Linked DNA regions of Homo sapiens: region 2 is linked to region 1. The links come from fine-mapping of genetic effects on gene expression. A gene starts in region 1. The other region holds a variant in brackets. All regions are shown on one strand. Distances are from middle to middle.

The links. PIP is the estimated chance that this variant, and not a neighbour inherited with it, causes the effect. A credible set is the group of variants that fine-mapping cannot tell apart.
Region 2: its variant is the best candidate, but not a certain one, in a credible set for the expression of CD24 in unexposed skin (GTEx, PIP 0.69).

What each region holds. Positions count from the first base shown.
Region 1 is chr6:106,971,989-106,976,376 of GRCh38, reverse strand. CD24 (CD24 molecule) reads left to right here and starts at 1,648. Exons shown (of 2, transcript NM_001359084.1): 1 at 1,648-1,799. The coding sequence starts at 1,731. RefSeq lists silencers at 887-1,106, 1,147-1,296.
Region 2 is chr6:106,911,511-106,915,898 of GRCh38, reverse strand. No RefSeq gene overlaps it. Among named protein-coding and RNA genes, the nearest start is that of CD24, 61 kb to the left of the region's middle. RefSeq lists an enhancer at 2,065-2,134. The variant T/C (reference allele first, on the strand shown) is at 2,610.

The DNA.
Region 1 (4,388 bases):
GTCACTTTGCTTCCCTGAAACTTACTTTGTTTTAATGAGACTGCCACGCAAAAGTGAAATTTAGACAAATTTAGAATCTTACTACTCTGTGGTTTACTTTAAAGACCGAAAAATGCTTGGGCTAAACCTTAAATAAAAGTATTAAGTCTTGCAATTAAAAATTGAACCAAAAATACTAACGAGAGTGTTCTGCAAAACTGAAATTTAAACAAATTTACAACCATACTAGGTTTGGTCTCTGCTGTTTGCTTTAAAGACTGAAAAACACTTGGGCTAAACCTTCAATAAAAAGATTAAGTCTTGCAATTAAAATTTAAACTCAAAATACTCCACCAGTAAAATTACTTCAACTTTTGTTGTATGCTTGAAAGTTTTCACAATAAGATGGATAGGAAAAAAGTATTCCACCAAAATCTAAAGAGTGATGACGAATCTCCTCTTTGTGCCGGTTCATTAAATTGCCTAATGGCAACTACGGATAAGTAAATGCCTTTATCTCGAACGGTTCTGCTCTTTAAACGAATGACGGGCAACAGAGACCGAAAAAGTGTATCCCCAGGAATTCGAGAGGGACGGTGAATTGTAGTGGGACCGCCAGGAGGGGAGGTTCCTGCCCCCGAGTAGAACCTGGGAGCAGAGCCGCTCGGGGAGGGCGGTGGGGGCTTCAGGGCCGCGGAGGGGGTCCCCTCAGGGTGGGCCGTCTCCTCCTCGCCCGCCGCAGGCAGGAGCGCGGGGGACCGAAACCCTGTAGTTTGCAGCGTCAGGCAGCGGGTCTGCGCCCAGCGAGCGGCTCCCCAGCTCCTGGGAAGATGCGGACCCGGGACGCCCCCGTGAGCTCACTGCGCCTGGCTGACACGAGGCGCTCACAGAACAAAGCAAGGGCTTCGGGGAGGGCGCGGCCGCGGGGCCGAGCGCGCAGATCGCTCCGGACCCGGACACCGCCTGCGAGGAGCGCCGACCAGCCGGGAAGGGTTCGCGCTAGGCGGCGCCCGGGTCCCGTCGGCCAGGGTGAGCGTCCGGCCCGCGTCCGCGCCACGCCCGCCGCGTTCCCCTTTCCTCTGCGGCGGGCCGAGAGATAACCCTGCCCGAGGGGTCCCGGCGCCCGCCCCCCACGCGGTCGCACTGGAATTCGCAGCCCCTCTCGGGTCCCCGGGGCGCATTTTGCAGTCTGAGTGGCAATGCACTTGCTCCAGGACAGGCGGCTACCCCGCCGCAGCGGAGGCGCGGACTTTTCTTTTGGGGGGTAAGATGGCAGGTCCCGGGAAACAAAGGAAACTTGGGCCCGGCCCCCAGCGCGGCGTGTGTGGCTCGCGTGTGTGCCCCGGGTCCTGTGCCGGAGGCGCTGGGCGCCTGTGCCAGCCTGCCCGCAGCCCGCAGCCGGCGCGGGGATACCAGCCGGGTACCAGCAGCCGGCGGCGCCCGCCCACCTGCAGCGGCGCCCGCCCGGGGGGCTCCCGGCCCGCGAGGGCCGGAGCGGCGGTGGCAGTGGCGGCGGCGGCGGGGGCGCTGGGGAACCCGGAGCGGGGCGGGGAAGGCGGGGAGGCGGCGGGCGGCGGCGGAGGGGAGCCGGGGTGGGCGGGCGGCGCCACGTCACGGCTATTGTGGCTTTCCTGGTATATAAGGTCTCGCCGGCTCGCCGCGCTCCCCACCTTGCCTGCGCCCGCCCGGAGCCAGCGGTTCTCCAAGCACCCAGCATCCTGCTAGACGCGCCGCGCACCGACGGAGGGGACATGGGCAGAGCAATGGTGGCCAGGCTCGGGCTGGGGCTGCTGCTGCTGGCACTGCTCCTACCCACGCAGGTGAGGCCCTGGCGCCCGGCGGGGCTCGAGGGCCGTTCCCGGGGTGGGGGCAGGGGAGATGGACCCGGTCCCGGGGGACCGTCCTGCGCTCCTGCCTCGGGCCACGGACAGGGACCGGGAGAGAATCTTGCTTAGCTGACCAGGGGAGAGGGCCATGTGGACCCCATTTTTCCATTCCCTTGCGTGCTGCCCCCCCTCCTCCCACGGCCCTGGGAACAATGCAGCTCCGCGTGCGGGCTGAGAGGACCCTGCCCCACCCCAGGTTCCACGCTGTCCCTTCCCAGGCAGCCAGGTGACTACTTCCCACTTTCACCCAGAGGCCCGAGGTGCCTGCAGGGATTAGCGCCTGGAGAGCTCGGGCTCCCTGGGGACGTTGTCCCTGGGTCCCTGAGGACTCGCTTTCCCCTAGGAATGTCTTCGCGCTCCCCGCGCTCTACACAAAGAGAGGCGACGGTCCCTTTCGGGGAGGGCGGCTCACGCCCATCCTCCACCCTCGGAGTTGGATTGGGTATCCCGGAGAAGCTACGGCTATCTGGCCCTTTTTAAACAAACCCCGGTTCCGGGCTGAAGCCGAGGCGGGGACCCTCTCCTGACGCTGCGCTCTCTGCGAGGCAACCTTTCACGTCCATCGCTTGTCATCTTAGGATCCCCATGTTATTTTAGCCCAGATTGGCTAGTTCTGGGGAGGCAGCATGGTGGGACGATTCTGTCCCGAGTCCCCGCCAGGCTTTGTTCGGGTCGCCGCTACCAGCGCGGTCTCCCTAGATCCTCCATCCGGGGAACCTCGCCCCGGGTGCGGGTACCCGGGGCCGCGCAGCGCTGCCTCGAGGGTGTATGGATGCACCGCGCCGGCGAGAGAGACCGGGGGCTGGGCCTGGGAGACCCTAGCGGGGGCGGGGGCGAAGAAGGTACGTTTGTTTGGGTCAGTTCGGGTTTGGAGGATGGGAGTGACGGCTCTCCAGCGCCTTCGATTGGGGTTAATCGAGGACTGTCACTGGGGCTTCTCCCCCAAAGTTGGGCGCGCTGCGTCCTCCGTCCCCAGACATCGAAAGTCCGGGCTCACCTGGGAGTGCAGCCTGAGTGTGGAACGCGCTTCCCCACCGCTGGCGGGGTAACCGTACCCTATTGTCTTCCTCCCAGTCCGCTGCGCTCCCGAGCCTTCCTCAATTCTTTGATGGGGGAGGGGCGCGGCTGCGAGAAACCGGCCCCCTCCACTCCCCGCCCCATCTTCTCTCCGACCAGATTTTTTTCCTCCAACATTGTAAGTGAGAAGTTTTAATAATGCGAATAAATCTAGCTTGGGAGAGAAAATTTTGTTTAGTGTCAGTTTAATAAACATAATTTTTTTGTTGGTGTAGAGGATCTTTAGATCCTCAGATTGATACACCAGGTTTTAAAAAGAAAACATCACCTGCTGCAGTAAAACTCATTGCATGAATAAAGAACAGGTTACTTTGCGGGATCCCAAACAAGGTGTCCAAAACAGGCACCCTGTTTTAAGTAAATTACCATATTAATGCTTTTCTTTATTGGGAGTGCCGTTTCCTGATGGGACACACTAAATCTTGCACACAGTAGGTGCCCGATAAATAAATTTGACTTGATCAAGATTTTTTTGTTGTTGTCACTAATCTATTTTGGATAGGATTTGTACATTTCTGTAGTCAATATTTGTTTAATGACCTTATGGATTTTACAACAAAAGGAGCTGGTGCTGATGTAGGAGGGCTTTATCTTTGGATTAATAGGCAGCCAAATGTACACGGGGCCCAGACTCTTGCCTGGTGCCACGTCCTCCCTCCAGCCTGTAATCAGAAGCTCTTGTAAACCCTCCCTTGCAGTGAGGGCTGAAAACTCCGATCTGCCTTTGTTCCATGACAAAGGAGAGATTATCACGTGCCCTACTGGACTGTGCATTTCGTGGCTTGAAAAATCAGTGGTGAATGATGCCACTCAGACGCTGGGACACTGGGAGAACCTTGGTTCTTGGCCACAGCAATGAGCTTGGCGACCAGTGAGGCTGCTGCTGGTGAAACTTAACACCATAACCTCTCGTTGTCTTTTGTGAAATCGTTCCGACTTCATGGTGTTTTCTTGAAGTCATTCTGCCTTAAAGGAAAAACTCATTTTCTTTTTCAATTTAACACAAATATTGTGGCCATTTTTTAGAAGAGTTACTATTTCAAATTTCAAGGGAGAAGATAAGACTGCATTTCCCCCTTAAGGAAAAGGCTAAGTTACCAAGGCTGTATTAAATTGAGTATGTGAAAGTTACCTAGCAAATCCAGGATAGACAGTGACCCAATGAATTCTAGTTCCATAAGTCTCAGTTACAATATTTAAAAATCCCCATTTTTTTGTGCAACTTTAAAATCTCCCCCTTTCTGGGAAAATAGACCTTATTGCAATGCCATTAAGTCAATATAATCTTGGAAACTGAATTAGTTAACCTGGTCCTTTTTTCCTTTGCAAAGAAATAAAAACAGGAGTTATAGTTATTGAATAACTTTTTTGTTCTTGTTGCCACTTGGCATTTTTGAGGCATCTCTAGGTAGTTTGTTTTGAAACTAAAGAGAATGACCTTGGTGG
Region 2 (4,388 bases), 60 kb after region 1:
AGTGATCTTCCTGCCTTGACCTTCCAAAATGCTGGGATTACAGGCATGAGCCACTGTTCCTGGCCTATAATAAATCTTGAAATCAGGTCGTGTATAAGTCCTCTGACTATTCTTTTTCAAAATTGTTTGCCTATTCTATGTCGTTTGTATTTCCATATAAGTTTTAAAATTAGCTTGTCAAGTTCTACAAAAAATTTTCTGGAATTTTATTTGGGATTATTTTGAATCTATAGATCCATTTGGGAGGAATTGATATCTTCACAATATTGAGTCTTCCAATCCATGAACAAGGAATGTCTCTCCATATGTTTAGATCATTCTTAATTTCTCAAGGAAATGTTTTGAAGTTTTCAGTTTATATGTCTTGCATATACATTTTGTTAAATGTATCCATAAGTATTTCACATTTTTGAGGTTATTTTACTCTATTGTTTCTTAACTCATTTTCAAATTGTTCATTACTGTTCTATAGAAATACAGTTAATTTTTATGAATTAACCTTTTGTCTTTCATATTTGTTTTATTTACTAATAGGCACAGATTTTAAAAAATCAATCTCAAGACGTTCTACATTGATAATCATGTTATCTGTGATAAAGGCAGTGTTATTTTTTTTCTTTTCAATCTGGGTGCCTTTTATTTCTTTTTTCTTGCCTTATTTCACAGGCTAGGAACTCTGGTACAATGTTGAATAGAAGTGGTTAGAACGGACATTCTTGCTGACCTTCAGGAGAAAACATTTAGTCTTTCACCATTAACTATGATATTAATATTAATGATAAGTTTTTCTCAGATGTTCTTTGTCAAGTTGAGGAAGTTTATTTCTAGTCCTAGTTTGCTGAGAGATTTCATCATGAATGGGTGTTGAATTTTGTAAATGCTTTTTCAGCATCTATTTTTTCTTTTTATATATATATATATATATATAAATACATAAATACATATATATATATATATAAATACATAAATACATATATATTTTAAGAGACAGGGTCTCTCTATGTTGCCAGGGTGGCCTTGGACTCCTGGGTTCAACGATCCTCCTGCCTTGGCCTCTGAGAGTGCTGGAATTACAGGCGTGAGCCACCGCACCTGGACGTCAGCATCTATTAAGATGACCAGATGGGCCAAGCACAGTGGCTCACACCTGTAATCCCAGCACTTTGGGAGGCCGAGGCAGTCAGACTACCTGAGGTCAGGAGTTTGAGACCAGCCATGGTCAACGTGGTGAAACCACATCCCTACTAAAAATACAAAAAATTAGCCCGATGTGGTGGCAGGTGCTTGTAATCCCAGCTACTCAGGAGGCTGAGGCAGGAGAATCGCTTGAGTCCGGGAGGTGGAGGTTGCAGTGAGCCAAGATCGCACCATTGCATTCCAGCCTGGGCAACAAGAGTGAAGCTCCGTCTCAACAAAATAAAATAAAATAAAAAAGGCCGGGCGCTGTGACTCATGACTGTAATCCTAGCACTTTGGGAGGCTGAGGTGGACGGATCACAAGATCAGGAGATCGAGACCATCCTGGCCAACATGGTGAAACCCCATCTCTACTAAAAATACAAAAAATTAGCTGGGTGTGGTGGCGCATGCCTGTAGTCCCAGCTACTCAGGAGGCTGAGGCAGGAGAATCGCTTGAACCCAGGAGGTGGAGGTTGCAGTGAGTTGAGATCGTGCTACTGCACTCCAGCCTGGTGACAGGGCGAGACTCAAAAAAAAAAAAAAGATGACCAGATGGTCCCTCCTGTCATGAGCTTTCATTCTGTTGGTAAAGACAGACATCAAACAAATGAGAACAAAGAATGTGATGTGTGAAAGATAGAGAAGGCCCAGGGTGCTGAGAACCTAACAGGGGCCTAGTCCAGCCCAGGGCCAGAGAGGTCTTTTTCAGGAAGTGAAGTTTAAATTGAGACTGCAAGAGAAGTAGGAAACAGCTAGGTGAAAGGAGGTACAAAGCAAACAGGAGCTGAGGTCACAGGACCTGTGTTCCAAATCTGGCTCTGCCGCTTTCTAGTTAGGTGAGGAGGGGAGAGTTCCCACAGAAACTCTGAGTTACATCTTGAGTCATCCTCTTAGCATGTAAGAGACAACTTTGTGAACTTTCCTCTTGATGATAATGTGGAGGTGTCACTTTTTTTTTTCAACCACTCTGTGAGGTCCTATAAGTATCTTTTACTTTACCTCAGCAATTGTTTGTTTGTCTTCTAGTGAACAATGAGATTCGGGTAACGTATCTGATTTCTGTTCTGTCTCAGGCGCCTGGAAGTTCAGAGACAAATCTGAGCCTCTGTTTAGTGACAGAGTACGGCCTTATGCAAACACGTGTTCTAATTTTCTCCTGGTCATAACCTTTTAAAACATTTTGCATTTTTTTGACTTTATATTTTATTGAATATATTTCTTATATCCTATAGACTACTTAAATATTTTATGGAATAAAGTAGATTATAAACAAAAAATAGGTTATATAGAAATATACAAAACTGTAGAAGGGCATAAAAATAAAAACTTCAGAGAAACCACTCCCTTATTACTAAGTTTCTGGGTCACCTAACAGGCCCAGCTGCTTCTCCTTCCTTCTATGACAACTATGTGTCCTGTCCAAAGCTTCC[T/C]GACTCACCCTGTTCCTCAGGTTTTCCTTCTTCTTTCAGGCTGCCCCAGCCCATGATTAACTGTTGTTCCCAAAGCAAACACACAGATCCTTTTTGCTTTAGGCATTTTGAAAAGGTTGTGTTACTGGAAAGTATACTAGGAAGATAATAGAAGAAGCAAACATGAGGAAATTAAAAAGATTCCAGAAAGTTCCCAAGGCCTTACTTGTTCCTGGTCCCTGACTTATGCTTTCTCACTTTCTTTCAATATGGCACTTAGACGAGCCTTTTGAATTTCTGTTCAGCCTTTTCCTCCCACAGTATAACACTTAAAACTCTCTTCCTCATGGTGTGCACTTAGCCCCTTTAAAGGTTCATCTTCCACTCCAGAGGCCCATGAGGACAATCAAGGCCAGACAGTGGCTGCCTCCCATCTTCATAGTAACTTGCTTTTATGAAGACCTCAGGACTTGAGCAGCCCAAGAGGATTAAACCCCAGTGGGCATTTCCTTGCATTCTGTATCTCTTAATGTAATCTCTGTGACTCCCCAAGGTCAAGGCTCTACATCTTAGGTGCAAAATGATTGTGGTTTTGTTGTGATGGCCGCTGGAAGCTCTGCAGTCATCAAGGCAGCAGTGCTAGAACCTGGTAAGAGTGCCGAGGTGAGAGAGCGGGTGGGCAGGGAGGGTGATGCTGGCATTGCTGGGGCAGGCGAGCTGGGGCCTTCGTGCATGTTAGTATGGAGGGCTTCTTCTACCAAGTTTTCAGAGCCATGGGTGGAATGGTGTAGTTCCTGGGCTTCTGCCCTCACCTCCTGGAACTTGCTGAACCCCTCTTCCCTGGCCTGGGTCTCCCTCCCCAAACCAAACAGTGCATGGATATGGCTTCTTCTACTCAAAATCATCTTCAAAATTGCCTTGTGACCAGTCACTCCAGCCAAAGAAAGCAGATGGAGTCTTTCACTAGCAATTCTTTATAGGATCTTATGTTTACTCCATCTTTGGAACACTCAGTCTTTCCTGCCAGGTGCTAAATCCTCTTTATGTTGTGCAACACCCTAAATAAACAGTATATATGCCAATGGGAGTGAATTTCCAGAGGAATTCTGATTTTGTTATTCTTTCTTCATGCCATGTTTTGTTTTTAAAAGACATCAAATTTCCTTTCTTTGCTGACAAATTCCTATCTCTTACCTTTCATTTAACAATGGAACCAAAATGGGAAGCTTTGCCTCAGAAAGCCCTATGGGTAAAATTCTCAATACTGAGAAAAATAAAACCTAAGCCCCACCCCCACCCCCCCCCAAGTAACTGAATGAATCCCATCTTGGCCAAGGGGACTGCAAAGAAACCTTGAAACCTGAGTTCCTGGCCATGATGGGATGGGAGGTCTGACAGGTCAGACATGCCTCATTATACCCCCTCCCTTGATAACTGCCATTAGTCTTTCTTCCCTAAAGATTAAACAGAAACCAACCCTTTTGAAAGACTCCACTGTGGATATCAAACAACTCCCTGACACTGCCCCTCCCTTTTTGTGGTTTTGACACACTGATAAGCCTGCCTTCCTGATAAGAGACCACTGCCTGTGGAGTGGTCCTGGCCAGTCTACAGATGATGTGCACTGAATACCTTCATGTCCTCTGCTTCGCCTTTTGACATTAGAAGGCCCAAAACTCCATCCTTGGATCCATGAAGAGCATAAAGTTCAATTACACAGGGTTGTGTTTCTCCTTTTGTAACTATTCATGACTCGTCTTAAAGTTTATTCAATATGTATATTCGGTCACGCTGCTCAGC